Linked DNA regions of Homo sapiens: regions 2 and 3 are each linked to region 1. A link means that fine-mapping ties the variant in region 1 to the expression of a gene that starts in the linked region. Tissue or cell type: esophagus muscle. Region 1 holds a variant in brackets; each other region holds the start of a gene. All regions are shown on one strand. Distances are between the middles of the regions.

Region 1 (2,500 bases):
AATAAATTGTAGTTATGATAATTAATGGAAATGGAGGGTTGGTCCTTTCTAATATTAAGCTAAAGTGGAATGCAATATGATTAATGATATACATGATGTGCAATGTCTAGTCACAAGGGAATATATTAGCAGGTTAGATTAGAGACCAAGAAAGTCAGTTTTTGACTGGACGCAGTGGCTCACGCCTGTAATCCCAGCACTTTGGAAGGCTGAAGCGGGCTGATCATGAGGTCAGGAGATCCAGACCATCCTGGCTAACACGGTGAAACCCCAGCTGTACTAAAAATACAAAAAAATTAGCTGGGTGTAGTGGCGGGCGACTGTGGTCCCAGCTACTCAGGAGGCTGAGGCAGGAGAATGGCGTGAACCCGGGAGGTGGAGCTTGCAGCATGCCACTGCACTCCAGCCTGGGCAACAGAGCGAGACTCCGTCTCAAAAAAAAAAAAAAAAAAAGAAAAAGAAAAAAAAATCAGTTTTCAATAGCTGTCCTTTTAAAAGCTGGTGATACAGTTTCATATTTTCTATAACTACAGCAAAATGGTTTTAATGTCATGGAGGTTTTCTTCCCCTCATTTGTGTTAAGCTCAAGGAGTGTGTCTTCAGCCAGATCACATTTGCTAATTACCCTGAATCTTTATAGAATCCAAACCCTAGGGAAAGAGTGAGGGTGCTGATCTTGGTCAAGTTATTTATCTGGAATTATCCAGGAAGATTCTGAAAATCCGTTTCTAGGTAAGTGTAGCTGTTTTGTTGTTCTTGTTATTTTAAAATAAGAAACCTCTTTTCTGATTCTTAACACATCAACAGTGAGTATTACAACAGAAAACATTTAAAATTGAGAACCCCCTTGAGGTCGTAAATTTGTGTGAGATCTATGGAAAACAAATTCCTGTAGCCACAAACATGATCACTTTGTCTCAGGGGTAGAGGAGCCAGAGTGATCTAAGCACATTTGATTTCCAGAGGAATTTATCATTTCCTTGTTTCCATGAACTCTTGCTCTTTTGAAGGTGTAACTTATGCTCACATGAATAGCACATTATGCTACTAACTTATTAGTAGTTTTAAAAGAAAGCAAGAGGACAAGAACATTTATTTCAGAGACTCTGTTTTCTTTTAAACCCT[A/G]ACGGTTGAGTCAAACAAAGTCTTTTTTGTAAATACTGTAGCTAAATCTTGGCATGCTTTTACTTTAAGCAAGGGAGGAGTTTTACTGACATTTGGATGTGCTAGATATTTTTGACATCAATCCCCAAGATGATTTCTTCTTGAAGGTTCTCTGGCTTTTTACTATCTTTCCTAACGGTCACATTTTTAGTTTACCATTAGCAACAGGAAAATATTTAACTGCTGGTTTTCAGCATTTATTGGGTAGACCATTATAAAAAGAAAATTAATAGTTTCTGAGTGGCTCCTATGTGCCGAGTTACATGTGTGATTTCACATAATCTGTATGCTGGTCCCATGAGTTAGGTTGTGTTGTTAACGTCATTTTACAGATGAAGAAACTGAGACATAGAGCGATTGAGCTGTGTATGCAAGATCACATAGCTAGTAAGAGACTAAGACAAAATTGGGAAGCAAGTCAGCCTGACTTTAAAGCCTGTATAATATAGTCAGTGGTATATTTACTTGTCCCCAAAAGGCAGTTACCTAAAGAAAAAAACATCTTATTTCGCATTTTGCCAAATTGCTTATCAACTGGAAGATTTCTGATTTTAAATCATTAATTGCAAAGTGAGCATTTTATAGCATCTTTTTTGTTTTGTTTTGTTTTTTTGAGACGGGATTTTGCTCGTGTTGCCCAGGCTGGAGTGCAATGGCACAATCTCAGTTCACCACAACCTCTGCCTCCCGGGTTCAAGGGATTCTCCTGCCTCAGCCCCCCAAGTAGCTGAGACTAGGTGACCGCCACCACGCCCGGCTAATGTTTGTATTTTTAGTAGAGATGGGGTTTCTCCATGTTGGTCAGGCTGGTCTCGAACTCCCGGCCTCAGGTGATCCGCCCGCCTCGGCCTCCCAAAGTGCTGGGATTACAGGCGTGAGCCACCGTGCCTGGCCTATAGTGTCTTTTAAGAGATTCATTTGTGCATTCATTTATCTACGAGCTAGACAATGTGTTATGTAATAGGAATTTAGAAGTCAATAAGATTTGGCTTAGTATCAGGTGGTTAGTTAAGGGAAGGCTACTTTGTATAGGGGAAAGAAACCTGGATTATCATTTAGGAGTTCCAAATGAATGTGGGCAGATAACTTTCTCTGTCTGGGTCTGTTTCCCTATCTGTAAAATGAAGGTGTTAGACAGTGATGTATAATCCCATCCATGACTCCTAATGGTGACCATAGGTTGTGGAGTTCATTTGGAAGTGAGAATCTTTGCTATAAACACTAGCTCTAGGCATCAGCGTTCTCATCTGTAAAATGAGGAGGTTGGACTAGATTAGCTCTATTAATTTTGACATCCAATAAAGGTTAAGATGATTTTTGTTTTACAAATCAAGAA
Region 2 (2,628 bases), 27 kb after region 1:
ACTATGAGCAATACATTTCTGTTGTTTATAAACCACCCAGTCTATGGTATTTTGCCATAGCACCCCAAACAGACTAAAACAGCACTGTAACAAATTATCACAAACTTGGCTTAAAACAAGAGAAGTTTAATTTCTCACAGTTCTAGAAGCCAGAAGCTTAACATCTGTTTCTCTGGGCTGAATTCAAGGTGTCAGTAGGACTGTGCTTTATTCCTTGCCTCTTCCAGTTTCTGGTGGCTGCTAGCATTCCTCTGCTTATGGCCACATCACTAATCTCTGGTCATTGCCTTCTCTTCTTGGTGCACCAACTCTCCCTCTTTTATAAGGGCACTTGTGGTTTAGATTTCAGCCTGCCTGGAAAATTAAGTCAAAAAGCCTTAACTTAATCACACCTGCAAAGACCATTTTACTTTATAAGGTAACATTTACAGGTTTCAGGGATTAGGACTTGATACATTTGGGTGGCCATTATTTAGCTTCATACAGAGTCCGAAATCTTTGCATACAATTTCAGGAAGATCATGGATTCCAGGTAGGCACATCTGCTCTGGAGTTGCATTTCACCACAGATACCTGTGGACAGATATTGGAGACAGGCTCATTTACTTATTCACAAACCTTGCTACAACTCAGAACCAACCGCAGCGCCGGTTAAAAATACTAAATACAAAACCACATCACAACCGCTAGTCCTAGTAAATCTGAATCCACCAGAGTTGGGGCCCAGAGCCTACATTTCTTTTCTTTTCCTTTTTTTTTTTTTTTTTTTTTTTTTTTTTTTTTTTTTGAGAGGGAGTCTTGTTCCCTTGCCAGGCTGAAGTGCAGCGGTGCGATCTTGGTTCACTGCAACCTCCGCCTCCCAGGTTGGAGAGATTCTCTAGCCTCAGCCTCCCAAGTAGCTGGGATTACAGGCACGCGCCATCATGCCCAGCTGATTTTTTTTTTTTTTTTTGTCTTTTTAGTAGAGACGGGGTTTCAACATGTTGGCCAGGATGGTCTCGATCTCTTGACCTCGTGAGCCGCCCGCCTCGGCCTCCCAAAGTGCTGGGATTTCAGGCGTGAGCCACCATTCCCGGCCAGAAGACTGCATTTCTAACAAGCTCCCCCAAATGACTCTGATGTCTTGCCCCCATACTTGAATGGGTATTGGTTGAGAGCCTTGTTCTCCAGCTCTCCTCTCTGTTAAATGGACATACTGCTACTTCTTTCACAGTAAAAGAGGAGATGTGTGTGAAAGCCTGTTTCCGCAATGCACGTGCTAATGCTCTTCCCGCCCCTTCCCCTCTTCCCCGTCTTTTCCCTATACCAAGGTGAAGAACTTTTATTATTCACTTGATTTTGGACCCACTTCGTGTTTAATGCACCTGGCCTAAGATGCAGAGTTGAGCCCAGGGAGAAGGGACGGGTTGGGGGAGGAAGAAAGAGTCGCAAATTCCCAGGCAGATTGGCTCCATCGGTCTAATCAAGCTGCACTTGACGCTCCGCGGGCCTGCTGCGCCCCCGCCCCCTCAGGCGAAAACTCGCCTCTGCCCAAGGCTGTGCGGGGCGTCCGCCCCCGCACTTCGCTGATTGGCCGCACTAGCCCGCTCGTCACGCTCTTTTGTCTCAGCTGGCAGAGGATAAAAGCCGCCGCGGCTGCCTTAGGAACGGCGCTGCCTCGTCTCTGCTACCCCTGGTTGGGCGGCCCTGCGAAGCAGCTCCTTCGGGCAGCCCCGGGTCGCTTAGCGGCCAAGGAGGCTTCAGTTCTTTGCCGCCTGCAAGGCGGAGACCAGAAGGCGGAATCCACAGCTGGCGACGCGGGAGCATCTGCTGTCCACCAGCGGAGCACAGGTAAAGAATGGGGGTGTGATTGCCCGGCGGGGAGAGGGGTGGGGGAAGACCCACCAGTACTGGGCGGCTCCCAGCTTGGAGAATCGGTGACTGTGAGGCAGGGGTAGGAGTACTCTCGTGGCCCGGCTGCGCTGAGGGAGGAGGTGGGGTTCACCTGGATACTGCGGGCTAGGTAGGATTTGCCTGGATTTGGGGGTGGGAGGAGAGGCGAGGAGTAGCGGGGGGAGGAATCTCGAGCTGTTTGCTTCGAACATCCTTTGCATCTCCTCATCTCTTTCTGGGAGGAATATGTGGGTGGGTGTGTCCAACTCCTATTCCCTTTCTCCGTGGCAGGCCATCAAAGCCGCATCTGAACTTGAATTCTGTGCAGCTGATTGCAGAGCTGGTAGGCCGACGGCTTCCCGGGGGAAATGTAATGCTGGAGGGTGGGGGGCTGGTCTCTGGCTTATAGTCAGGAGGGGGCAGAGAGAATTTTTCGCCTGGCAACAGCGGAGGTGGTGGGTAGCAGGATGACGGGTGAAGCTGCTTCTAACCCTTCCCTTCTCTGGCCTTCTCCGCTGTGGCGCAATCTTGAAACCTCAAGGACCCGGATCTGCGACCCCCTGTGGACAGAGGTTGACCGTACCCCGGAGAGGAGCTTTCTCACGGAGGGCACTGGTTGCAGAGGCTGGAAGTGAAATAAAGACGCGCTCTTGTTTCAGAGTTCGTGTAAGAATCTGAGAAATAACAAGGGGGACGGGCGTGGGGGGCACTTTGAGAAGGGGGTGTGGTTGAGACCAGAGACCATGAGGTTAATGA
Region 3 (2,628 bases), 69 kb before region 1:
AAGGTACCCTTTTTGTATCCCATAATTCCTTGTTCTTGCCCTTATCATTGCCCCTCAGACTGACTGCAGCTTTCTGTTAGCAGAGCTTGCTTTTGGTGAGTGTCTTCAACAGTTCCTGGAACAATTTCATAAATATTTATTGAGTTTGAGAGCCTTAATTCCAAGAGTGGAACCTTTGTTGTGAATAGGTTAAACAACCCTGTGCCCTTTGGGTGGGGTCTAGACTAGGTATATTATCAGCATTTTTATTGCTATACTTTTTGTAACTGTTTTCAGGTATATGCATTGGCTTAATTCGGCCAAAATACACCTCATTATGGGTCTCATCATCCACCTAGACATGATTCTTTTTTGGGAGAAGGTGATAGAATAATGTCCCCCTCCCATGATTCCATATCGTGATCCCCAACACCTGTGAATATGTTAACTTACATAGCAAAAATGACTTTTCAGTTATGATTAAATCAAGGATTTTGAGATGGGGAGATTATTATGAATTATCTGGTGGACCTAATCTAATCACAAGGGTATTTATAAGGGAAAAGGGGAAGTAAGAGGGTCAGAGTCAGATACGACAAGGGAAGCAGAGGTCTGAGTAGTTCCGCAACAAGCCAAGGAATGTGGGTAGCCTCTAGAAGCTGGAAAAGTCAAAGACACAGATTCTCCCCTAGAATATCCAGAAGGAATACATCTCTGCCCACACCTTGATTTAAGCTCAGTGTCACTTCTGACCTCCAGAACTGTAATAAAATAAAACTGTTAAATCACTAAATTTGTGGTCATTTTTGACAGCAGCAACAGGAAACGCCTAAGGACTCTTGTTTTCCTTCCTCCCAGCCTCACTGACCCTCATAGGCGCCCAAGTATCAATGTGTATTCTTCCGATTCACCTCCCATCCCTTTGAAAAATATGTAGAAAGTTTGTCGTGTGCTTTAAAAAATGCACGTATGGTATCCTCCCTCATGTTTGGAATGTTCCTTTTAAAATCAACATTATGTATTGCCAGCTTTCAAATATGCCCTTTGTCCTTTTCACAAAGCACAGTACTGCCAGTGTCCCCAACTCCACCCAGTGAAGTAGGGCTGGTATTACTAACCCTGGAGTCAGCGCTAGCAAACAAGGGCTCAGAGGTCAAGGGCTGGAAGCCAGGTCTCCAGACTCCCAGGCCAAGGCTCTTTTCCGCAGATGACTCTGTCCTGGTGTCCAGCAGGGCACAGCCCCTAGCACCTCCGAGGCCCCGCAAGTGTGCTGGCAGCGGCGACGCCGGCTCCGCCACGCGGAGGGAGGAGGCCCAGGCAGCGCCCGGAGTGGGCGGCGACGTGGTGGAAGAAGTTTTGTTCGGTCAGAGACCGGACGCGGGAGCTGCGGGTGGGCCAGGTGTCCAGCCTTGGGAGCCGTAGGAGCCGCCAGAGCCGCCAGAGCCGCCGGCGCCCCGCCCCGCCTCCTCCGGCCGCTCTCGCCGGCTCAGGTTACCTGAGGCCGGTGGGCGGGGCGGCCCTTCCCGTCTGCGCCGGCCCCCAGCCTCCAGGGCGGCGGAGCCGGGAAGTGGAAGAGGGAGCGAAGGAGGCGGGGACTGCCAAGGCTCCAGCCCGGCCGGGCTCCGAGGCGAGAGGCTGCATGGAGTGGCCGGCGCGGCTCTGCGGGCTGTGGGCGCTGCTGCTCTGCGCCGGCGGCGGGGGCGGGGGCGGGGGCGCCGCGCCTACGGGTGAGTGCGACCCTCGGGGCCCGAGGGGCGGCCGGAGGGCTGAGGGCGGTGAGGGTCACGGCTGAAAGGCCCCGGAGGTCAACGCCGGGCGGAGGGCCGAAGCTGGGGTGGGTGCTGGGGGCTGCCCTCGCGAGGCCCCGCGCTCGGCGGCTGCGGCTTCCCGCGCGGGATCTCTGGGGCCCGGTACTGGGGCCGGTTCGAGGTGGGACCCGGGAGCTGCGGGGTTTTCCCGAACTCCGGGTGCGGCGGAGGTGGCGGCAGCGAAGTAAGAGGGCTGCGACTTGTAGTGGGAAGAGCCCAGGAGGCTGGCGTCCAGGCGTGCGGGGGCGGGGGGCCCGAAACATGCCCACGGCGTCAGAGGGCCGTGGGTCAGCGCCCGGAATGTCGCCTGTGAGCCCGGGAGGAAATGAGGCGCCAGAGCCGGCGGGGACCACGACCGAAGTCCAGGCGAGCTGAGAACGCGCCGGGGCTCTTTGCCCGAGGCCGCGCCAATCCTCACTGTCTAAGGGTGGCTCTTGCGAGTGGAAGTTGAAGGGAACCTCTAAACATCTCAGTCCTTGTTGAAAAAGGACGTGACGCTCATGACCTCCTCTGGCGTCGAAGAAATCCTTTGGGAAATCCAGAATAGCATCCCGGCAGATGCTCCCCCCACCCCACTCTCTTTAATAAACCTTATATTTTAGGGTAATTGTAGATTTATGGAAAAGTTGCAAAGATACTTCAGAGAGTTGTGTATATCCCTCACCCTGTTTGGTAACTTCTAGTTAATCAACCTGGCAGTTGTGAAAAATTGGGAGTTAATGACTTCCTTAGGAGCAGCTCCTGGAAGGAATGGCCTTCTGGACGTTTTTGGTGACAATGAAAGCCCCAAACTGTATAGGTTTTATTATCACATTGACACAAACACTTATATATGCTTATT

What was found. PIP is the estimated chance that this variant, and not a neighbour inherited with it, causes the effect.
Region 2: ZCCHC12 starts here. The variant in region 1 is fine-mapped to the expression of ZCCHC12 in esophagus muscle (GTEx, PIP 0.93).
Region 3: IL13RA1 starts here. The variant in region 1 is fine-mapped to the expression of IL13RA1 in esophagus muscle (GTEx, PIP 0.99). The same link has a PIP of 0.9 or more in gastroesophageal junction.

The regions. Positions count from the first base shown.
Region 1 is chrX:118,794,778-118,797,277 of GRCh38, forward strand. It overlaps a transcript of IL13RA1 not described here. Among named protein-coding and RNA genes, the nearest start is that of ZCCHC12, 28 kb to the right of the region's middle. The variant A/G (reference allele first, on the strand shown) is at 1,126.
Region 2 is chrX:118,822,176-118,824,803 of GRCh38, forward strand. It overlaps ZCCHC12 (zinc finger CCHC-type containing 12), which reads left to right and starts at 1,649. Exons shown (of 4, transcript NM_173798.4): 1 at 1,649-1,830; 2 at 2,164-2,215; 3 at 2,414-2,538.
Region 3 is chrX:118,726,021-118,728,648 of GRCh38, forward strand. IL13RA1 (interleukin 13 receptor subunit alpha 1) reads left to right here and starts at 1,586. Exons shown (of 11, transcript NM_001560.3): 1 at 1,586-1,706. The coding sequence starts at 1,619. RefSeq lists a silencer at 1,195-1,624.